2 linked regions of the Homo sapiens genome follow. Each later gene encodes a partner of the first gene's protein in a complex. Each region holds a gene or a part of one and is shown in the gene's direction. Other genes may lie near its edges.

Region 1 (12,185 bases):
AACTCCTGAGCTCAAGGGAGCCTCCTGCCTCGGCCTCCCAAAGTGTTGGGATTACAGGCGTGAGCCACTGCACCCAGCCACCTGGTCTGCGTCTTAAAAGCCTTCCTGACTCTCAGGACTGAAAGCTGCCACCAGGGCGCCTTTGGAAATCGTCGTAATTATAACCCCCCCGGCCTGGGCGCTGAGTCCTTCCCACCAGCCAGCAGGCACTGACCGGGTTGCAGATCGGGAGACGGAGGCTCGGAGAGGCCCAGGGGCTGCTCTGCCATCCCCCCTTTCCCTGCAGCCTGGGGGCTCCCTGACGCCTGGACTCCCCCCCTGCAGGTGCTGCCCGAGCTGCGGAGATCGTGGGCGGGCACGAGGCGCAGCCACACTCCCGGCCCTACATGGCCTCCCTGCAGATGCGGGGGAACCCGGGCAGCCACTTCTGCGGAGGCACCTTGATCCACCCCAGCTTCGTGCTGACGGCCGCGCACTGCCTGCGGGACATGTGAGCGGCCGCCTCCACACCCCTGTCCGCCCGCCCCGCCCTCTTCCTCCAGCCCTGGCCCGGCCACTGTCCCTCTGCCCGGGGAGGACCCAGCTAAGCCCCGTCTGCAGACCCCAGGCCCCGCGCGCGTGGGCAGTTCTGGGGGGAGGCCCGGGGCAGGGTCGCCGAGGGAGGGGTCTGGGGCTGCACCGCGGCCTCGGGAAGGGCCGGCTGTGGGCGGCGGCGAGTGTCCAGGGCGCCGAGGAGTGACCACCCCACCCCCGCAGACCCCAGCGCCTGGTGAACGTGGTGCTCGGAGCCCACAACGTGCGGACGCAGGAGCCCACCCAGCAGCACTTCTCGGTGGCTCAGGTGTTTCTGAACAACTACGACGCGGAGAACAAACTGAACGACGTTCTCCTCATCCAGGTGGGCGGGCAGGGCCGCGAGGGCTCGGAGGGGCACGGCCAGAGGGCTCCGGGACCCCCATTCCTGCAGCCAGCATTCATTGAGCACCCACTGTATACCGGGCCACGACCGAGGCCGCTGCAGCCTGGGTCCAGTGGCACTGGCCGGGGGAGACCGCTCCTTGGACACCAGGCCACTCCTCCTCCCCGCCTCTCCCCCGCCCGCGCCTCTCCCCCGCCCGCGCCTCTCCCCTGCGCGCCTCTCCCCCGCCCGCGCCTCTCCCCCGCCCGCGCCTCTCCCCCGCCCGCGCCTCTCCCTTGCCCGCCCCTCTCCCCTGCCCGCGCCTCTCCCCTGCATGCCTCTCCCTTGCCCGCCCCTCTCCCCTGCCCGCGCCTCTCCCCTGCGCGCCTCTCCCCTGCCCGCGCCTCTCCCCCGGCCGCTCCTCTCCCCCGCCCGCGCCTCTCCCCCGCCCGCGCCTCTCCCCTGCGCGCCTCTCCCCTGCCTGCCCCTCTCCCCTGCCTGCGCCTCCGCCCGGTGTGCTGTTCCCCCAGAAAGCCAGGTGCCCTCGCCTCCTCCGGCGCCTCCCCTGACCTCACTGGAAGTGGCGAGGACAGCCACAGCCCTCCCCGATTCACTGTTCTCCACTGAACCGCGTGCTCCTCTCATTCATGGGGCCCTCCTAGCCTCCTCCCACCCAGAAAGATCAGCTCCCCAGGGCAGAGGATTTTTGTCTGTGTTGTTCGTTATTGGACTCATGTGGCTTAGAACGGGACTGGGCATACAGGTGGTGCTCAGTAAGTGCTTGGGGCTGGGCACTGTGGCTCACGCCTGTACTCCCAGTACTTTGGGAGGCTGGGATGGGAGGATCACTTGAGGCCAGGAGTTTGGGAGCAGCCTGACCAACCTAGTGAGACCCCATCTCTATAAAAGACATTTTTTTTTTTTTTTTTTTTAGACAGAGTCTCACTCAGTCATCCAGGCTGGAGTGCAGTGGTGCAATCTCGGCTCACTGCCACCTCTGCCTTCCAGGTTCAAGTAATTCTCCTGCCTCAGCCTCCTGAGTAGCTGGGATTACAGGCATGCACCAACACGCTTGGCTAATTTTTGTATTTTTAGTAGAGACGGTGTTTTGCCACGTTGGCCAGGCTGGTCTCGAACTCCTGACCTCAAGTGATCTGCTCTCCTCAGCCTCCCAAAGTGCTGGGATTATAGGAGAGAGCCACCGCGTCCAGCCTACAAAAGAAAAATTTAAAAATCAACCGGGCATGGTAGCACACGCCAAGCCACTCATGAGCTGAGATGGGAGGATCACTTGAGCCCAGGAGGTTGAGGCTGCAGTGAGCTGTGATCATGCCACCACACTCCAGCCTCGGCGACAGAGCAAGACCCCATCTCAAAAAAAAAGTGCTTTGAAGATGAATGAATGGGCCAGGGGCGGTGGCTGTAATCCCAGCACTTTGGGAGGCCGAGGCGGGCGGATCGCCTGAGGTCAGGAGTTTGAGACCAGCCTGATCGATATGGCAAACCCCGTGTCTACTAAAAATACAAAAATTAGCTGGGCGTGACGGCAGGTGTCTGTAGTCCCAGCTACTTGGGAGGCTGAGGCAGCAGAATTGCTTGAACCCAGGAGGCAGAGGTTGCAGTGAGCCGAGATTGTGCCACTGCACTCTAGCCTGGGCAACAAGAGCGAAACTCCATCTCAAAAAAAAAAAAAAGAAAAGAAAGAAAGAAAGAAAACATGAATGAATGGCCGGGCACTATGGCTCACACTTGTAATCCCAGCACTTTCGGAGGCTGAGGAAGGCAGATCACTTGAGGTTGGGAGTTTGAGACCAGGCTGGCCACCTCACCCAATGGGATGGCTCCGGGAGGTTCCAGTGAGCCGAGATCACGCCACTGCATTCCAGCCTGGGTGGCAGAGCAAGACTCCATCTCAAAAGAAAGAAAGAAGGAAAGAAAATGAATGAATACAATAGTGACAAATGGGACAAAGGGGGTCGTGGGGCCCAGGCGGAGGGAGCGGCATCCGCGGCGTTTTGAGGTGGTGGGTGTGGTGGGTGTGGTGGGAGGGCGGCCCGGGCGGCCACCGTGACCTGGAAGCAGCGTCTCACCGCCGCCTGCCTTCTGCCCCAGCTGAGCAGCCCAGCCAACCTCAGTGCCTCCGTCGCCACAGTCCAGCTGCCACAGCAGGACCAGCCAGTGCCCCACGGCACCCAGTGCCTGGCCATGGGCTGGGGCCGCGTGGGTGCCCACGACCCCCCAGCCCAGGTCCTGCAGGAGCTCAATGTCACCGTGGTCACCTTCTTCTGCCGGCCACATAACATTTGCACTTTCGTCCCTCGCCGCAAGGCCGGCATCTGCTTCGTAAGTAACCGTGCCCCCACCCCGGGCACCGGGCTGCCATGAGGGGAGGAGGGCGGCGGCCAGGGTTCCACGCCACCTCTTAGCTGTGTGGCTTCATGCTGTGCCTCAGTCTCCCCACCTGGAAGGTGGGCACACCCAACACCCAACGGGCAGGCTCAGCGGGGTGGGGGCGCTCACATTGCACCTGGCTGCTTGGGTGGGTCTGGGGGTTCCCTGCCCCCCACTCCCCTCTAGGACCACAGGAAGGTGTGGGAGACCCATCCGCCCTCACCGGCGGCCCCTTCCAGAATCCAGGACTCCAGGTATCCAGCGGGAGGCCCATAAATGCCCAGTTCCTACGAAAGACCTCAGCCCCTCCCTGCTCACACTTTTTGTTTGTTTTTGAGACGGAGTGTCGCTCTGTTGTCCAGGCTGGAGTGCAGTGGTGAGATCTCAGCTCACTGCAACCTCCACCTCCCAGGTTCAAGGTATTCTCCTGCCTCAGCCTCCTGAGTAACTAGGTGCACAGGTACCTGCCACCGTGCCTGGCTAATTTTTTTGGTATTTTTAGTAGAGATGAGGTTTCTCCATGTTGACCAGGCTGGTCTTGAACTCCTGGCATCAAGTGATGCCTGGCTGGTGCTCACACATTTTAAAGAAAATTCCAGGCCAGCAGTGGTGGCTCACGCCTGTAATCTCAGCACTTTGGGAGGCCAAAGCGGAAGGATCTTTTGAGTCCAGGAGTTCAAGACCAGCCTGGGCAACATAGCAGGGTGGCATCTCTACAAATAATTTAAATATTAGCTGGGCATGGTGATGTGAGCCTGTAGGCCCAGCTACTCAGGAGGCTAAGGCAGGAGGATCACTTGAGCCTGGGGAGTTCGAGGTTGCAGTGAGCTATGATTGTGCCACTGCACTCCAGCCTGGAGAACAGAGCGAGACCCTGTCTCGAGAGAAAGACAGCCAGCTACTCGGGAGGCCGAGGCAGGAGAATCACTTGAACCCGGGAGGCAGAGGTTGCAGTGAGCCGAGATCACGGCACTGCACTCCAGCCTGGGTGACAGAGCGAGACTCTGTCGCAAACAAAACAAAAACAAAACAAAACAAAACAAAAGGAGAAAGAAAGAAAGAGATAGAGAGAGAAAGAAAGAAGAAAGAAAGAAAAAGAGAGAAAGAAAGAAAGAAAGAAAGAAAAAGAAAGAGAGAGAGAGAGAGAGAGAGAGAGAAAGAAAGAAAGAAAGTTCCATATTGGAAGCATTTTATTCTGAAACAGCTGTGGCTACCCCAGCCCCCTTCCTGGCTGCCTGGGGCCAGCCCGGGTGACTGGCTGTCCCCATCCTCCCGGGAGACTCAGGTGGCCCCTGATGGGTGACTGGCCGTCCCCATCCTCCAGGGAGACTCAGGTGGCCCCTGATGGGTGACTGGCCGTCCCTGTCCTCCAGGGAGACTCAGGTGGCCCCCTGATCTGTGATGGCATCATCCAAGGAATAGACTCCTTCGTGATCTGGGGATGTGCCACCCGCCTTTTCCCTGACTTCTTCACGCGGGTAGCCCTCTACGTGGACTGGATCCGTTCCACGCTGCGCCGTGTGGAGGCCAAGGGCCGCCCCTGAACCGCCCCTCCCACAGCGCTGGCCGGGACCCCGAGCCTGGCTCCAAACCCTCGAGGCGGATCTTTGGACAGAAGCAGCTCTTCCCCGAACACTGTGGCGTCCGGGACGGCCCCACCCGTCCCCCCACACTCCCTCCCACGGGGCTCCGGGAGACAGGCCGGCCCTGCACCTCACCCCACCGTGACCTCAATAAACGTTGAAACTCCCCCTGGCTCCTGTCTGTCCTTCCCATATAGGGAGGGGAGGGGGAACTGCCCACCGTGACCTCAATAAACGTTGAAACTCCCCCTGGCTCCTGTCTGTCCTTCCCATATAGGGAGGGAACCAGGGAGAGGTCCCCTGGGTTCAAGTCCCCGAGCCCCAAACTCAGGATGGGGGGAGTCGGAGCGGGGGATGGGGGCCCAGGTTGCAGGGGGTCTCTCTCCTGGATGCTCGTGGCTGTGGGTTCTAACCCGGCCCCATCAGGGTGGCCCTGGGCAGGTTGTTATTCATCTCCGTGCCTCAGTTTCCTCATCTGGAAAATGGACTCGCCCCAGACGTTTCCTAGAACTGTCCCTGCTGGCTCAGGGACTCCTTGAGGAAGGGGATGGGGATGGGGAAGCAGCCTGGGGGGCTTCCTGGAGGAGGTGGCAGTGCCAGAGCTGCATATCAAGGTGTGAACAGAAACATCCGAAGGGCTGCCAGGCAGGGGGCACAGTCCAGGCAGAGACCTGAGGGCTAGAGGCCAGGGGACGGGGAGGAGGGCAGGCAGGGGAGGGATGTGGGTGCAGGGGAGGGGTAATGGGGTTGGAGCGCTATTTCTCGTAGGAGGGGTAGGCAGGGCAGGAGTTCCCTGGTAGAAGCATGAGCAATGAACTGGGTGGGGGGGTGGCCAGAGGGGAGGTCCGAGGCGGGGAAGAGGTGGGACTCACAGTCCAGCTCAAAGACGGGCAAGTGGCCACTAGAAGGAGGCATTAGCCACAGAGAGGGGACGACCTGCTCCAGGACACGTGTAGAGAAGAAATGAAGCTCATTGCTGGTGTTTTTTTTTTCTTTTTAATATTTTTTTGAGACAGAGTCTCGCTCTGTCACCCAGGCTGGAGTGCAGTGGTGTGATCTCGGCTCACTGCAAGCTCCGCCACCCGGGTTGAAGCGATTCTCCTGCCTCAGCCTCCGGAGTAGCTGGGACTACAGGCACAGACCACCACGCCCAGTTAATTTTTATATTTTTAGTACAGACAGGGTTTCACCACGTTGTCCAGGCTGGTCTCGAACTCCTGACCTCAGGTGGTCCACCCGCCTCAGCTTCCCAAAGTGCTGGGTTTACAGGCGTGAGCCTACTTACTTATTTACAGCTGGCCTACTTATTTATTTTTGAGACAGGGTCTCACTCTGTCGCCCAGTCTGTAGTGCAGTGGTGCAATCTTGGCTTACCGCAGCCTCAACCTCCTGGGCTCAAGTGATCCTCCCACCTCAGCCTCCCGAGTAGCTGGGACTACAGGTGCCACCACACCCAGCTATTTTCTTAGTTTTTGTAGAGACGGGGTCTGGCTGTGTTGCCCAGGTGGGTCCTCAGTGACTCTTTACATATGAACACCTCCAGGTCACTGTAATCTTAGCAATCTCCTGGCCTCCCAGAAGACCCCACGTCCCCCTCGGAGTCTACACCCGCTGTGACCATAACACCCCTACCTTCCCTGCCACAGTTAATGGTGAACCAGCTCTCAAAGCAACACTTTCTTTTTTTTTTTTTTTTTTTTTTTTTTTTTGAGACGGAGTCTCGCTCTGTCGCCCAGGCTGGAGTGCAGTGGCATGATCTCGGCTCACTGCAACCTCCGCCTCCTAGGTTCAAGCAATTCTCCTGCCTCAGTCTCCCGAGTAGCCGGGATTACAGGCAGGTACCACCACGCCAGGCTAATTTTGTATTTTTGGTAGAGACGGGGTTTGTCCATGTTGGTCAGGCTGGAATTCCCAACCTCAGGTGATACACCCGCCTCAGCCTCCCAAAGTGTTGGGATTACAGGCCTGAGCCACCGCGCCCGGCCAGACAACACTTTCTTAGCTAAGAACTTTATGAACGTGAATTTATTTCATCCTCTTGACAGGTTTATGTGATGGATCCTACGATTATAATTTTACAGAGGAGGAAACTGAGTCACGGAGAGTTTATTTCAGGGGCCTGAAGTTACACAGTGGCCAAATGGCCACACCAGAACCAGGATATGAACCCAGCGTCGGCACACTTAATAATGACTGCACGTGAGAATGTAGTATACAGCTGGTGCTCAATAAATGCAGCTGACGCCAAGTCTGATCTCCGTGCTGGAGGCCAAGCCCCTTCCAAAGATACGGCGTCCCCCACCCCTGAAATCCCCCCACCCCCGACTTGAAACAGGGCTGTGTAGACAGTAGGCGCTTACTAAGTGCACTGTGGTGATGTTAAGGCAGCAAGGTGGGAACCCTGCCAAAAGGGGAGGGGAGAAGGCAGGGTAGTGTGTGTCTGATTAAGCTGAGGACAGGGCAGACATGGACTGAGCGCCTGCTGTGTGCCAGGCTCTGGGAGGGCAGGGCCATTGTCTCCCTAACCCGAGAGCCATGGGGGTCCACTTGCCTGTGGTCACGTCAGGACTCCAGCCTGGCCCAGGCTCTGCGTGTCCCCGGGTGCCCTCGCCCCGCCTATTCCTGGAGACAGGCCCGTTGGTTCCCTTCCCCTCCCCTTGTCCTGGAGCCAGGAGGACGTTGGTTCTTGCGACAGCCTTGGCCCGGCCGTTGCAGCTGGAACATCGTGGGGGAGATGGGAAGAGGAACGGGGCCCGGAGCCCGGGGCTGGGTCCTGGGAATCCCTTTCCCGCAGCTGGGACTCCAGCTCCCCTGCCAGTTCCTCCAGGCGGAAGCCCTCAGGCTTGGTCCTCACTCCAGCCTCCCGGCCTGGACAGGAATTCTCTCTCCAGCAGCCCTGCCAGATGCCCGCCCAGCCCCTGCCTCAGGCGGGGAGGGCTTCAGGGAAGCTCACCAAGGCAGAAGGGCGGGAGAGATTGTCAGAGCCCCAGCTGGTGTCCAGGGACTGACCGTGAGCCTGGGTGAAAGTGAGTTCCCCGTTGGAGGCAACAGACGAGGAGAGGATGGAAGGCCTGGCCCCCAAGAATGAGCCCTGAGGTTCAGGGAGCGGCTGGAGTGAGCCGGCCCCAGATCTCCGTCCAGCTGCGGGTCCCAGAGGCCTGGGTTACACTCGCAGCTCCTGGGGGAGGCCCTTGACGTGCCTCAGTTCCCAAACAGGAACCCTGGGAAGGACCAGAGAAGTGCCTATTGCGCAGTGAGTGCCCGACACAGCTGCATGTGGCCGGTATCACAGGGCCCTGGGTAAACTGAGGCAGGCGACACAGCTGCATGTGGCCGGTATCACAGGGCCCTGGGTAAACTGAGGCAGGCGACACAGCTGCATGTGGCCGGTATCACAGGGCCCTGGGTAAACTGAGGCAGGCGACACAGCTGCATGTGGCCGTATCACAGGGCCCTGGGTAAACTGAGGCAGGTGACACAGCTGCATGTGGCCGGTATCACGGGGCCCTGGATAAACAGAGGCAGGCGACACAGCTGCATGTGGCCGGTATCACGGGGCCCTGGGTAAACTGAGGCAGGCGAGGCCACCCCCATCAAGTCCCTCAGGTCTAGGTTTGGCAGGTTTGGCAAAAACACAGCAACGCTCGGTTAAATCTGAATTTCGGGTAAGTATATCCTGGGCCTCATTTGGAAGAGACTTAGATTAAAAAAAAAACGTCGAGACCAGCCCGGCCAACACGGTGAAACCCCGTCTCTACTAAAAATACAAAAAATTAGCCAGGCGCAGTGGCTCACGCCTGTGATCCCAGCACTCTGGGAGGCTGAGGCAGGCGGATCACCCGAGGTCAGATGTTCAAGACCAGCCTGGCCGACAGGGCGAAACACTGTCTCTACTACAAATACAAAAATTAGCCGGGAGTGGTGGCAGGTGCCTGTAATCTCAGCTATTCAGGAGGCTGAGGCAGGAGAATCACTTGAACCTGGGAGGCGGAGGTTGCCGTGAGCCGGGATCACGCCACCGCACTCCAGCCTGGGCGATAGAGCAAGACTCTGTCTCCAAAAAAATAAATTAAAAAACCCACATTGATTATCTGACATTTGAATGCGATTGTGCATCCTGAATTTTGTCTGGAGGCCCCACCCGAGCCAATCCAGCGTCTTGTCCCCCTTCTCCCCCTTTTCATCAACGCCCTGTGCCAGGGGAGAGGAAGTGGAGGGCGCTGGCCGGCCGTGGGGCAATGCAACGGCCTCCCAGCACAGGGCTATAAGAGGAGCCGGGCGGGCACGGAGGGGCAGAGACCCCGGAGCCCCAGCCCCACCATGACCCTCGGCCGCCGACTCGCGTGTCTTTTCCTCGCCTGTGTCCTGCCGGCCTTGCTGCTGGGGGGTGAGTTTTTGAGTCCAACCTCCCGCTGCTCCCTCTGTCCCGGGTTCTGTTCCCACCTCTCCATAGAGGGCCCCACCAGTGTGGGTCCCTCATCCTCACAGGGGAGGTGCCAGCTGGGACAAGGAGACCAGAAGAGACTGAGGTTCTGAGCGGTGAAGCCACCACCAGGAGCCCAGAGTTGGGGTTTGAAAACCGGGGAGGGGGGGGGGGTCGCAGGTCGCCCTCTGGGTTCAAGTCCAGGTCTGTCTGTGCCTTGGAGGGGCACCGTGGGGAGGTCCCTTTGCCTCTCCGTGCCTCAGTTTCCTCATCTGAACAACAGGGGTGCGAACGGCCCCGATCCCGTGGGTTCCCGGTGGGGGATCCCGTGGGTTCCCGGTGGGGGATCCCGTGGGTTCCTGGTGGGGGATCCAGAGGCCCCGTGGCCGGGAGGGGACAGGCTCCTTGGCAGGCACTCAGCACCCGCACCCGGTGTGTCCCCAGGCACCGCGCTGGCCTCGGAGATTGTGGGGGGCCGGCGAGCGCGGCCCCACGCGTGGCCCTTCATGGTGTCCCTGCAGCTGCGCGGAGGCCACTTCTGCGGCGCCACCCTGATTGCGCCCAACTTCGTCATGTCGGCCGCGCACTGCGTGGCGAATGTGTGAGTAGCCGGGAGTGTGCGCGCCCGGCTCGGACCCCGCGTCCCGGTCTGTGAGGTGGGTGGGGGGAGGCCGGGGCCGGGGCTGCTGGCGGGGGGGGGTCCGTCCAGGGCCCGCGGGGCCCCTCGAGCACCTTCGCCCTCAGGCCCGTCGCCGGATGGGGACGACAAGGCGCGGCTGAGCCCCGACCCCCGGGGCCGCCCCTGAGCCCCGCCTCTCCCTCCCCGGCAGAAACGTCCGCGCGGTGCGGGTGGTCCTGGGAGCCCATAACCTCTCGCGGCGGGAGCCCACCCGGCAGGTGTTCGCCGTGCAGCGCATCTTCGAAAACGGCTACGACCCCGTAAACTTGCTCAACGACATCGTGATTCTCCAGGTGCCGCCGGGCGGGGCGGGGGGCGCAGGGGCGGAGGCCAGAGGCCTGGGGAGGGTGGAGGCTGCGACGGAGGGGCGCGTCGGGGCCGCTCGTGGGGACCTGGGGTGGCATCGTGGGCTGGGTGGTCCCCTCTCCGCGCCTCGGTCTGCACCTCTGTGAAACGGGAAAATACCCGCCATGGGCCGTTGAGGGGTTAAATGAGATCCTGCAGGGAGGCCCCGATCTGCTGTCAATCAACAAACTTACTGAGAAGGGAGGCCCCGATCTGTTGTCAATCAACAAACTTACTGAGAAGGGAGGCCCCGATCTGTTGTCAATCAACAAACTTACTGAGAAGGGAGGCCCCGATCTGCTGTCAATCAACAAACTTACTGAGAAGGGAGGCCCCGATCTGTTGTCAATCAACAAACTTACTGAGAAGGGAGGCCCCGATCTGCTGTCAATCAACAAACTTACTGAGAAGGGAGGCCCCGATCTGTTGTCAATCAACAAACTTACTGAGAAGGGAGGCCCCGATCTGCTGTCAATCAACAAACTTACTGAGAAGGGAGGCCCCGATCTGTTGTCAATCAACAAACTTACTGAGAAGGGAGGCCCCGATCTGCTGTCAATCAACAAACTTACTGAGATTCTTTGTGTCTCTCCATTCACCAGTCCTGTGGCCCAGGGCAGGGGCCGCCTCTGTCTTTGGGAAAAGGGGCAAAAGTCCCCACCTTTCCACCCCTGTCCGCGGCTTGCAGTTCTGGTTATTTCCTGGGCGCCGGGCCCCGTGGCTCAGGCCTGTCATCCCAGCACTTTGGGAGGCTGAGGCGGGTGGATCACGAGGTCAGGTGTTCGAGACCAGCCTGAGCAACATAGTGAAACCCCGTCTCTACTAAAATACAAAAAAAAAAAATTAGCCGAGTGTGGTTGTGGGTGCCTGTAATGCCAACTACTCAGGAGGCTGAGGAAGGAGAATCGCTTGAACCCCGGAGGCGGAGATTGCAGTGAGCTGAGATCACACCACTGCACTCCAGCCTGGGTCTCAAAAAAAAAAAAAAAGATTCCTCCCTGGGAAGGGTTAGAGGGAGAGTTTCCTTGTCACTAAGTTTTCTCATAGCTCTCACCCAGTGCAGTGGCGCGATCGCAGCTCACTACAGCCTCCATCTCCTGGGCTCAAGCCACCCTCTCAGCTTGGAATGGGGGGTAGCTGGAACCACAGGTGCCACCACGTGGGTCCACCACGTCTGGCTAATATATATATATACACACACACATACATATATTATAAATAATAAATATATATTTTATTTAAATAAAATATATAATATTTATAATTATTTTATAATTATAATAATATTTATATAATTATAAATATCATTTATAATTATAATATTTATTATTTTATAAAATAATAAATATAAAATATATAAAAATATTTTTATAAAATAATAAAAATATATATATACACACATATATATATATTTTTTGAGACAAGTCTCGCTCTGTCGCCCAGGCTGGAGCGCAGTGGCACAATCTCAGCTCACTGCAACCTCCGCCTCCCAGGTTCAAGCGATTCTCCTGCCTCAGCCTCCCAGGTAGCTGGGACTACAGGCGCCCGCCACCACGCCTGGCTAATTTTTGGTATTGTTAGTAGAGACGGGGTTTAACCATGTTAGCCAGGATGGTCTTGATCTCCTGACCTTTTGATTGGCCCACCTCAGCCTCCCAAAATGCTGGGATTATAGGCGTGAGCCACCGCACCTGGCAATTTTTTTTTATTATTTTTGTAGACATGGGGCTTTGCCACATTGCCCAGGCTGGTCTTGAATGCCTGGCCTCAAGTGATCCTCCTGCCTCGCCCTCCCAAAGTGCTGGGCTTACAAGCATGAGCCACCGCGCCCGGCTGTAGTTTTTTTGTTAACTGAGCACCTACTGC
Region 2 (11,643 bases), on another chromosome or scaffold:
ACAGACTTTGTTTCTTTAACCTTAGGTTAACTGGATCCCTTCCTCTAGGGAGACAGACATGCAGTTTTTGAAGGAATAAAGTGCAGAGCCCTGATCTGTACACCAACCATCTCTTGCATGGTAATAAGTATGAAGACACCTGAGATCCACCGTTGTTGGTTAATTTCTCCTGCCAATTCTTTGATGGTGGATGTTTTTCACCCTTGCCCAGATTCTGCTTTACTGCCCTTCACCCATTCACTTGTGGGCCTAAAAGGACAGTTCATATTTCCAGATTTTATTAGGACTATGATGAGCAGTAGGGGAGGAAGTACAAACATTGCAGAATTCAAACTTTCTTGGGTGGGAAAATGATAAGGAGTGGCTAAGCCATCTGTTTCTCTGGAAGGTCTAGGGAGATCCAGTTGCCATGTCCACCACCTGTGGATGACACTTCCAGAGGTGATTTAAATGACCCCACCTCCCTTGCAGTCATCTCTTTCTCATCTACTCTTCCTGTCTCAGCTCGGGGTTTTTTTTTCCCCAATACTCTCCCCACCACACCTACTACATCTCCATACTCCCTGGCTCTGTGTCTCCATTCCCATTTGGTCATTATTGACGTTTTATGTATTTTGTTTAAGACAATATTTTAAGCTAAGTTATAAAGGCAACTATGAAAGTCAGAAAATTGGCTGAGGCTCTTGGGGAGAGCTGATGGCCTCAGAGGAAGCAGGATGAAGCTGTTTCTTAGAGTCACAGTTACCGTCTTGGGACAGGTAGAGGAACTGAGGCCCAGGGAAAGGTAGTTGCTGCCTTATTCACACAGGAATGAGCTGTGAAAACCTGGTTGTCTGCCAGATTCTGAAAGAGTTTTTTGTTCTGTGTTGTTTTTTGGTTTTGAGACTTGGAAACATAGTGAATTTTAGGTAAGAACACAGTGACTTTTAGTTAAGGGTGAAGCTGGCATCTGCTATCAGAATGGGGCGACCCGAAACACATTCTTCCTTAGACCTGAGCAACGGGGCTCCTTCCCTGCACCTCACACTTCAGGTCGCTCTGTGCCTTGGGGCGTCTTCCTCAAAATTGTCTATGTTCCCCTGGAGTGCCTGAAGCCAGCCAGGATCAATGGTGCCATGGGGCAGAGAATCCCAGCTTGGACTGAGAACTGCATGGGTTCTAGTCCAAGGGGGTGCTTCTCACTCTGTACTCCTTCCCCCATTGCTAGAATCTAGGGCAGTCATCCTACCACCTTGGATGGCTCCTGGCAGGAGCCTGTGGCTGCTCCTGTCTCTTCCTCAGGGCTTTCCAGGCCATCTCTGTGCAACTCCAAAGGGGCTTTTCAGTTGATGTCTTTTTTTTTTTCCTCTGATTGACCTATGCTCTCTCGGGTCAGTGTTGAGCCATAATGGATTAGGCAGAGACATTTCTTGTGCAAATGAGATGCTCCTCTCACTTCAACCCTGAGCCCCTCCAGGGCTGGCTACATAATTTACAAGACTCAATGCAAAGTGAAAATGTGGAGCTGCTTGTTCAAAAGCAGGAAAAAAAGTGTTAACGGTACTAAAATTAATTTTTTAACTTTCTTTGGCAGTTTCTCTCTAGATCTGCCATGGTGTTAAAAAAATTATTTACTGTTGCTCCTCCACAAGTATGTGGATACTCACAGGGAGAGTGCAGACTCCCAGAGGTGCGCAGGGTCCCTGTCCCGCTACTTGGTGTGTGCAGGACCCACCAGCTGCCAGGGTCCCCCTGTCACCAGCACCCTGGTAGTCAGGGACAAGCGGCCACACTAACAACATTTGAGACAGTAATTGGAAGCCAGTATTCAGAGAAGGCATAAAGGATGATGCAGCCTCACAAGTAATGATGTAACCAACTTTAATAAATGGCATTGGGAAGTGCAGAGGCAAGCAGGTTCCATCAGCCAGGGTTTTCCAGAGAAACAGAACCAATAGTTGATTATCTGGCTATCTATCTATCTATCTATCTATCTATCTATCTATATCTATCTATCTATCTATATCTATCTGTCAGTTAAGATCTGTCTATCTGTCTGTCTACCTACCTACCAATAGGCCCAATCAGGTCTATTTTGTCAAGAAATAAGACCATGTTTTGTCAAACATTTAATGGGACAGAGCCAGATGGGTCCAGACCCAAGGACTAAGCTATTTAGTTAAAGACTGACAGCTCCCTGTGCGCTTAATGTGTGCAGGGACACGCCGGTAATAAAAACAATGTGTAATGTACTGAGGGGACCAGACAGTTTGCTGAGTGCTTTCCAAATACTCCTCACAACAACTGTACGACTCCAGAGGCAGCAACACTCTCATTTTTCAGTGGAGGTAGCTGAAGTTCAAAGAGGTTCAGTGATTTGCTTCCAACCTGTAAGTCTGACTTTGAAGTTCAGGTTCTTAACAACCATGTGGTGTCGACTCCGTGGGCGTGCTCTTTTCTGTAGCCCTAGGCCTAGTGCAATACCTGACATGTGGTAAGAAATGTTAAACAACTTTTGTGTGAATGGTTTGTATAAATGAATGAAGGAATCTATAGGATTTAGGTAGAAGGCAATAAAGGGTGTGTGAAATAGATTTTTTTTTTTGAGACAGAGTGTCACTCTTGTAGCCCAGTGGCATGACCTCAGCTAACTGCAACTCTGCCTCCCAGGTTGAAGTGATTCTCCTGCTTCAGCCTCCTGAGTATTACAGGCACACACCACCATGCCCGGCTGATTTTTGTATTTTTAGTAGAGATGGGATTTCACCATGTTGGCCAGGCTGGTCTCAAACTCCTGACCTCAAGTGATCCACCCACCTCAGTCTCCCAAAGTTCTGGGATCACAGGAGTGAGCCACCACTCCCAGCCTTGAGATAGATTGAATGAGTCAGTCTCAGGTTAAGATTTGGTTAGGAGTGGAAGTGTCCTCCACCAGACAGGTTCTGGGGATCAGCATGTGAGTAACCTGTTTTAGAAAAGCTCAATCTTGTGTGTGTCGTTAATCCGCTATGCAGCTTTGGGCCTGGATCTTCTTCTAAGGGATTCAGTCTCTTTTATGCAAGCTGTGGGTTTGGTCTAGGGGTTAGCATTTTCTGTAAAGGACCAGACGATAAGTATTTTAGGCTGTGCAGTAAATATTTTAGGTCCCTGTTGCCATTGTAGTGGAAAGATAGCCTTAGACAATACATAAATTAATGGATGTGTGGCTATGTGCCAATAAAACTTTATGAAAACAGGTAACTAGGTGGATTTGGTCCAAGGACTGTAGTTTGCTGATCTAGAAAACCCTTGAAGTCCTCTTTTTAGTCTTAACATTCTATGATGTAAACATTTAGAACCAATTATGTCAAAGATAATAATGATTATATACTATTATCTTCTTATGACACCCATGGAAGACATTGCTAATTGGGCACAGGGCTCTTTTCTGATGAGAAAGGAGCTGGCTCTAATCAGTCAATCACAGATTGAGCAATCAGTCAATCACAGATTTAAAAAAAACTTAAGCTGTAGCATTTTCCTTTTAATTTTTTTTTTTTTTGAGACGGAGTCTCAGTTTGTTGCCTAGGCTAGAATGCAATGGTACAATCTCAGCTCACTGCAACCTCTACCTCCAGGGTTCAAGTGATTCTCCTGCCTCAGCCTCCTGAGTAGCTGGGATTACAGGTGTGTGCCACACTGCCTGGCTAATTTTTGTATTTTTAGTGGAGATAGGGTTTCACCATGTTGGCCAGGCTGCTCTTGAACTCCTGACCTCAAGTGATCCGCCCACCTTGGTTTCCCAAAGTGCTAGGATTACAGGCATAAGCCACCGTGCCCAGCCCCTTTTCATTCTTTAAGAAATAAATATTTAGAAAACTCCAGATAATTTCTTGAGTGTGGCACTGAGGAAAATAGGAACAAACAGAGAGAGAGAGAGAGAGAGAGAACAGGAACTCTGTGAGAGAAATCAAATTATCCCCTGGGTGGTGGAAGTGAGAACAAAAATCTTGACCTGAGAGTGTCATTACCCATTGGTGGAAATCATAGCCTCCATTTCTCTCTTACCTACCCTACTAAGTACTCCAACTAAGAGTGAATGCACCTGGCTCATAGTAGTTACCTTGTGCATATTAATTTTCTTCCTTTTCTTTTTCCACCAAAATTTGACTGATGATTGATTATGTCCAAGTCTTCTGATCCACCAAAATTCAAACCATGGAGTGACTTTTGTATAAAGGGATCTGCTGCCAGTTGCCTGTTTGGTTGTGGAATACTTAAATACTTCATGTGGGGCCATCGCTACTTGATAATGAGTGGGTCTTTCATGTCTGTGGAAAGTTCCACAAACCTTCACCTTAGGAATGAATGGGAGAATTCCAAGCATGAAGATAATGAGTCAAGAGCTTGGAGTTTGTAGCTAGATGAGCTTTGGTTGAATTTTATTTTATTTTATTTTTTTAAGACAGGGTATCGCTCTGTCCCCCAAGCTGGAATGCAGTGGCACAATCATGGCTCACTGCAGCCTCAAACTCCTGGGCTAAAGCGATCCTCCTGGCTCAGCCTCCCAAGTAGCTGGGACTACAGGCATACGTACGTCATCATGCCTGGCTAATTTTTTACATTTTTTTGTAGAGATGGGGTCTCAATATGTGGCCAGGGCTGGTCTCAAACTCCTACTCTCAAGGAATCCATACACCTCAGCCTCCTGGGCAGCTGAGACAGCAAGTGTGCGACCCTACACTCAGCTATGGGCTGAATTTTAGAGATAATGGTCGCTCTCTTTATAATTAGAAGCAACCTATGCAGACTGGGTAGCAAATAGAATGGGTTTAATTTTTTGCTGTCATGTGAGATCTGTAAGGGATTTTGGGGAATTTTAGGAAGCAATCCTCTAAGATCTCAAATTATCTCACAGCTAAATGTAGATTACAGTGACTGATGAGCTGCTTTCCCCCTTTATCTCAGATTCATTTCAATTCTCTTTAGTGGGAAGGGATACTATTCATTTGTTCTTTTCATTCAGAGTCCCTTCATGCCCTTAATTTCATAACCCTCTGAGAAGGGCTGACTTGTTAGTATCATTTCATTTCACAGCTGAGACAACTGAGCTCCAGAGAGATTTGTGGAGAGCGGAGCTCTTCTTCAGCTTTCATTTGTGAGTGCTTTTCCTGTGTCAGGCACAGAACAGGCACTGGGGATATAACGGTGTAAATATTTCAGGGAACTAAGTATCAGTTGGTTGAACGAGCTGAACTTTTGAGAAAGAAACTGCATTGAGTAATCAGCAGAGTTTCACAATGCCTGAGAGTCCAGTAATGTGAGAATCAGAATTAGCAATGTGAGAATAGAATGTATTGCACAAAGTCTCAGCAGGGAGTCTGTGTCTGGTTTTAGTTCCAGGTCCGGGTAGCACCTTTGCAATTGACCACTTCTTCCCTCTCTCCACCTATAAGGCTAATGGCCTGGGATCTTGTGATGTTTAGGGCTCAGATGGACACTGAGATGGCCTCTTTAATCAACCAACTTCCCAGGCCAATCTCTTCCCTTTCTTTTCTGATAGTTGCTGTGTTGGCCTCATAGCCTTACCTGGCATAGGAAAGATAAACAATCTCCTTGGTGTCAGGATTTCTGGTCTCTGGCTACGTTTCCTGCTTATGCAATAGTAGCTGGGAGAGGCCGAAAGAATTCTGGTGGGGCCACACCCACTGGTGAAAGAATAAATAGTGAGGTTTGGCATTGGCCATCAGAGTCACTCCTGCCTTCACCATGAAGTCCAGCGGCCTCTTCCCCTTCCTGGTGCTGCTTGCCCTGGGAACTCTGGCACCTTGGGCTGTGGAAGGCTCTGGAAAGTGTAAGTTGGAGTCACTCTGGTCTAATCTGGGCTGCAGGGTCAGAGGTGGGGTCTCCTTGTGGTGTGGGTGTGTCCCCTTCTGTAGGCTCTGATCCCTCAGCTTAGTTTCGGGAGACCTCCCTGAGGGTGGAATACATGTCTGGCTGAGCTCCAAGGTTTGTGTGACAGTTTGAGCTTCTGGAAATGCTTCCTCTATGCAGCCATGCTGTCAGCCCAGGTCCCACTCTCTCTCTCTCTCTCTCTCTCTCTCTCTCTCTCTCATACTCCGCCTTCTTCTTCACCTGTCTGCGACTCTCAAATCATTAGTTTCTGACTCTGCTTCCTTGTGTCTTTGCTTCTGCTATTTTGTCTCTGTGCTTCTGCCTTGGGCTTTAGCTCTCAACTTCTCTCACACTGGTTCTATTTATCTTTGTTTACCTCTCTCCATCTCCATCACTCCCAGCCTTCCTCTCTGCCTTTGTGTAGCCTTGTTTTGCTCTTGGGTGGGAGGTCTTGACTAGAAGCCTGCTGCCCTTTTCTTGGGTGTGAAACGTCCCCTGTCCATTTGTCTAATTTAATCAAGCCCATCAATACACCTGGAGATCAGGCAGGCATGACCCTTTGGGCTTTGTGGACAGCTACTGAGGTAAGGGTCTCTCCCCCTCAAAAGTGGTGCTTTGTTCAGGAGGCATGATGGGTCCTCAGTACCCAGCCTCCTCCTGACCTCTTGACTTTCTCTTCAAAAGCCTTCAAAGCTGGAGTCTGTCCTCCTAAGAAATCTGCCCAGTGCCTTAGATACAAGAAACCTGAGTGCCAGAGTGACTGGCAGTGTCCAGGGAAGAAGAGATGTTGTCCTGACACTTGTGGCATCAAATGCCTGGATCCTGTTGACACCCCAAACCCAAGTAAGCAGGTCGGGGAACTGGGTAGAGAGGAGTGAGCCTGGGGACACAGCATTAGAGGGATGGAACTGGGTGATGGGTCCTGCCAGGCCTCCTTGTCAATCCGTCAGTGAGTCACACTGCCCTAAGCAGGAAGGTAGCCAGCAGCTGGTGAAGCAGCGGGCATTTAGATAGCCAGGTAGTTGGAAGCCTCCCACCTAGTCAGCACTGGGTGGCTGGCCACCTGCATCAATGGGGGGCCTGAAGTTCTAGGAGAGCCAGGTGCTATGTTTGGGGGCCGCCTTAGGGAGAAGGTGGTGGTGATAGAGGTGGGGAGGGGATGATCCCCCCTGCTGAAGCTGGAGCAGGGGCTCACTCTAAAAAGTGGGGATGGGAGGGGTTGTATAAAGTACAAGGCCTCTGACCGGTAGCCTCACTCTCACCCAGCAAGGAGGAAGCCTGGGAAGTGCCCAGTGACTTATGGCCAATGTTTGATGCTTAACCCCCCCAATTTCTGTGAGATGGATGGCCAGTGCAAGCGTGACTTGAAGTGTTGCATGGGCATGTGTGGGAAATCCTGCGTTTCCCCTGTGAAAGGTAAGCAGGGGATGAGGGCACACTGAGCTCCCTCCAGCCCTCTCAGCCTCAACCCTCTGGAGGCCCAGGCATATGGGCAGGGGGACTCCTGAACCCTACTCCAAGCACAGCCTCTGTCTGACTCCCTTGTCCTTCAAGAGAACTGTTCTCCAGGTCTCAGGGCCAGGATTTCCATAGGATCGCCTGTGGCTTTGATTCTATTCTAGTGTCTCTGGGTGGGGGTCCTGGGCAAGTGTCTTTCTGAGTCTCAGTTTCTTTATCGGTAAAATGTACATAATGAGATTGAAAGTGCTCTGCAAAGCACTATGTGCACTAAGAATTTATTATTCAGGTTGTTTCCATCATGTTTTCTGAGGTGAAATCACAAAGGATCAGTGGAGTTTGAGGATTATCTAGTTCAATGCTTTGAGTTTAGAGTTTTACGGTGAAAATGAGACTTGTCTCCTGACACTAAGTCTCTCTCAACTATAGCGCTATCTTGCTATTTTCTCTATCTCAGAAGGATCCTTGGGCAGGAGGAAGGATGTGGATATGATTTGGCTGGTTTCTATGCTGAAGCTCTTATCTGATTTTCTCTCACAGCTTGATTCCTGCCATATGGAGGAGGCTCTGGAGTCCTGCTCTGTGTGGTCCAGGTCCTTTCCACCCTGAGACTTGGCTCCACCACTGATATCCTCCTTTGGGGAAAGGCTTGGCACACAGCAGGCTTTCAAGAAGTGCCAGTTGATCAATGAATAAATAAACGAGCCTATTTCTCTTTGCACATCCTGCTTCTGTGATTCGTTGGGGGTATGAGTGGGGTGGGAAGCTGTGAGGGAAGATCTAGATATGAGGCCTCCTTCCTATGAATACGTAGTGGGAGGAAGAGGCTTAGGGACTGGGGGAACTTGAATTTATATCATGAGTGTGAAAGTGCTGACTCTGTGATTTGGGACAAGTGATTTTATCTCCTAAATTTCAATGGGATTAGGGATGTACAATAACATGAAGAATCAGAAACCTCAATTTTACTGCCTCTGGCAGGATTGTCAACTGCAGGTGAAAAACTTTCCTGAGACGAGTTTATGCATAAGAGATCCTGCCAACAGTTAAGCTATTTTAATCCAGGGGGTTTTCATCTAAAGCCATACAGAACTGTTGGGGCAGATTCCTGTGTTCACCTCTGTATGTGTTACGATATATATATTGGTTTTCACACTTGATATGTTGTAGGTCTGTCTGTTGTCTAATCCAACCAACACTCTCTGGACACTCAGAAAAATTAAGATTATCTGCAACTCACAGCAAATGGAGTCCTCAAAAAGACTAACCATGTTACGTCAGTGCCCACTCTCGATTATTTTGAAAGACTTGGAATGCCCCAAACCTCACTGGACCATTCTGCTACATACTTTTCTCACCTCCAGCAAGGGTTATTCCAGACTGAGGAACCTAGGCTCGGGCAAATACGCTACTAGGAGTGTGCCCCAAGTAGCACCTTGCAGGGGGAGGAGACCTAGCGTTGAAATGAGATAAACTCCTGGGTTACATACAGAACACATGCTGAAAAAGTGACAGTACTATTTTTTTTCTACTCTTCTTCTCCAATTTTTGGATAATGATAAACTTTTATAATCTTCCTTAGGTCAGGTTTTCTGGAAAACAGTCCCAGAGGCAAATGTTTGTGAACAGGGGGTTTGCTGGGGAGTGTCCTGGGGAGTGACACCTGTGACAGGGAAAAGAAAGCAGGGCTGACAGGCAAAAAAAGCAAAAATAGACAAGTGGGACTACCTCAAACTAAAAAGCTTGCAAAGCTAAAGACACAGCCACCACTACCAGTCTCTGCATCTTGATGGTAGTGGTCCCCTGGGCCCAGCTGCTTTCTCTTTATCTCTTGGTCTTGTGTCTTTTACAATCTCTTGTCTCTGCACACAGGGAGAACACCCACTAAGCCCTGTAGGGCTGTATAGAAATGCTACTGATTTTTGTATGTTGATGCTGTATCCTGCATATTTACTGAATTCATTGATTGGTTCTAAGAGTTTATTTGCAGAGTCTAAAGGTTCTTCTGTAGATATAATTATGTTATCTGCAAAGAGGGATAATTAGACTTCTTTTCCAATTTGAAAGGCTTTTATTTCTTTCTCTTTCCTAATTGCTCTATGACTTCTAATATTAAGTTGAATAAGAGCAGTGAGAGTTGGCATGCTTTTCTTGTTCCAGTTCAGTATGATGTTAGCTGTGGGTTTGTCTATATGGCCTTTATTGGGTTGAGATACTTTTCTTCTATACCTACTTTATTGAGAGTCCTTATCATGAAGGGATATTGAATTTTACCAAATGATTTTTCTGCATCTATTGAGATAATCATATGGACTTTTTGTCCTTCATTCTGTTGATGTGATGTATCACATTTATTTAAAACATTCATAAATGATTTATATATGTTGAAACACATTCTTCATCCCTGGAATAAATCCTACTTGATTATAGTGTATTATCTTTTTAATGTCTTGTTGGGTTCAGTTTGCTAGTATTTTATTGAGGATTTTTGTATCTATGTTCATAAGGAATATTGGCCTGTAGTTTTTTGGTGTGTGTGTGCATGTGTGTGTCCACGTGCCCTTATTTAGTTTTGGTATCAGGGTAATGTTGGACTCATAGAATGAGTTTGGGAGAATTTTCTCCTTTCTCCTCCTTAATTTTTTGGAATAGTTTAAAGAAGAACTGATGTTAACTCTTCTTTAAAAGTTTGGTAGAACTCAGCAGTGAAGTCTTCCATTCCTGGGATTTTGTTGTTGTTGTTAGGAAGCTTTTTATTACTGATTCAGTCTCATTACTCATTATTGAACTGCTCATGGTTTCTAAATTTTTTTCTGGTTCAATCTTTATAGGTTATACATTTCTAAGAATTTATCAGTTTCCTCTAGGTTTTCCAATTTGTTAGCTTATAGTTGCTCATAATAGTATCTAAGAATCCTTTGTATTTCTGTGTCACCAGTGGTAATGTCTGCTTTTTCATTTCTGATTTTATTTGAGTCTTCTCTCTTTTTTTCCCTAGGTGGTCTAGTTTATGGTTTGCCAGTTTTGTGTATCTTTTCAGAAATCCAACTTTTTGTTTTGTTGATCTTTTGTAATTTTTAGTCTCTCTCTTGTGTATTTCTGCTCTGATCTTTATTATTTCTTTCTTTCTACTAATTTTGGGTTTGGCTTGTTTGTGCTTTTCCAGTTCCTTGAGATGCATCATTAGGTTGTTTATTTGAAACCTTTCTAGTTTTTTAATGTAGACATTTATTGCTATAAACTCGCCTCTTAATACTGCTTTTGCTGGGTCTCATAGGTTTTGGTATGTTGTGTTTATATTTTTGATTATTTCAAGGAATTTTGAAATTGTATTCTTAATTTCTTTCTTCACCCATTATCATTCAGGTGCATGTTGTTTAATTTCCATGTATTTGTATACTTTTAAATGTTCCTATTGTTATTGCTTTCTAGTTTTATTCCATTATGGTCAGATAAAATACTTGGTATGATTTTGATTTGTTAAAATTCTTGAGACTTGTTTTGTACCCTATGGCTAACTTTTGACATTGTTACTTGTGCTGATGGAATACGTATTCTGCAGTTATTTGGTGAAATGTGCTGTAAATGTCTGTTAGGTCTGCTTAGTCTATGATGCAGTTTATATCTGATATTTCTTTGTTGATTTTCTGTTAAAATAATCTTTCCAATGCTGACAGTAGGGTGTTGAAGTCCCTAACTATTATTGTATTGGGGTCTATATATTCCTTAATATCTAATAATATTTACTTTATATATCTGGACGCTCCACTGTTGAGTGCATACATATTTACAATTGTTATATTCTTTTACTAAATTAGTCCCTTTATAATTATATAATGCTATTCCTTGTCTCTTTTTTCCAGTTTCTAATTTGAAGTCTGTTTTGTCTGATATAAATATAGCTACTCCTGCTTGCTTTTGATTTGTTTTCATGGAATATTTTTCCTTCTCTTTACTTTCACCCTATGTATGTCTTTACAGGTGAGGTTAGTTTTCACTATATAGTTGGGTCTTGTTTTTTAATCCTTTTAGCCAGTCTATATTTTTAAAATGGGGAATTTAATCTGTTTATATTCAGGGTTATTACTGACAGGTGAGTACTTACTCCTATCATTTGATTGATTGTTTCCTGGTTGTTTTTGTATATCCTTTGCTCTTTACTTCCCTTCTTATTGTTTATTTTTGTGGTTGGGTGGTTTTCTGTAATAATAAGGTTTGATTCCTTTCTCTTTCTTCCTTGTGTTTTGGTTCTATCAGTGAGTTTTATAGTTTCAAATGCTTTCATGATGGTGTCAATTCATGGTGCACCATGGGACTGAAATTTAAGTTTTA

Evidence for each region.
Region 2: the proteins of ELANE (region 1) and SLPI are in contact, whole or in part, in a crystal structure (PDB 2Z7F), measured with the Homo sapiens proteins. Residues at the interface, in NP_001963.1 of Homo sapiens: His53 (codon at 9,829), Phe54 (codon at 9,832), Cys55 (codon at 9,835), His70 (codon at 9,880), Cys71 (codon at 9,883), Asn74 (codon at 9,892), Val75 (codon at 9,895), Pro111 (codon at 10,232), Val112 (codon at 10,235), Asn113 (codon at 10,238), Leu114 (codon at 10,241), Leu158, Ile165, Leu180, Arg182, Val197, Cys198, Phe199, Gly200, Asp201, Ser202, Ala216, Ser217, Phe218, Val219, Arg220, Gly221; in NP_003055.1 of Homo sapiens: Tyr93 (codon at 7,152), Gly94 (codon at 7,155), Gln95 (codon at 7,158), Cys96 (codon at 7,161), Leu97 (codon at 7,164), Met98 (codon at 7,167), Leu99 (codon at 7,170), Pro102 (codon at 7,179), Phe104 (codon at 7,185), Met121 (codon at 7,236), Cys122 (codon at 7,239).

What each region holds. Positions count from the first base shown.
Region 1 is NC_000019.10:843,137-855,321, forward strand, and holds the start of ELANE (neutrophil elastase preproprotein), read left to right. Parts: upstream 1-9,166; 5' UTR 9,167-9,192; coding exon 9,193-9,259; intron 9,260-9,739; coding exon 9,740-9,896; intron 9,897-10,125; coding exon 10,126-10,267; intron 10,268-12,185. Other genes in the region: PRTN3 (myeloblastin precursor), read left to right, coding at 325-490, 757-898, 3,011-3,241, 4,663-4,833. UniProt on the Homo sapiens protein: Serine protease that modifies the functions of natural killer cells, monocytes and granulocytes. Inhibits C5a-dependent neutrophil enzyme release and chemotaxis. Promotes cleavage of GSDMB, thereby inhibiting pyroptosis. Promotes blood coagulation.
Region 2 is NC_000020.11:45,248,628-45,260,270, reverse strand, and holds SLPI (antileukoproteinase precursor), read left to right. Parts: upstream 1-5,706; 5' UTR 5,707-5,727; coding exon 5,728-5,812; intron 5,813-6,537; coding exon 6,538-6,696; intron 6,697-7,119; coding exon 7,120-7,269; intron 7,270-7,851; coding exon 7,852-7,856; 3' UTR 7,857-8,032; downstream 8,033-11,643.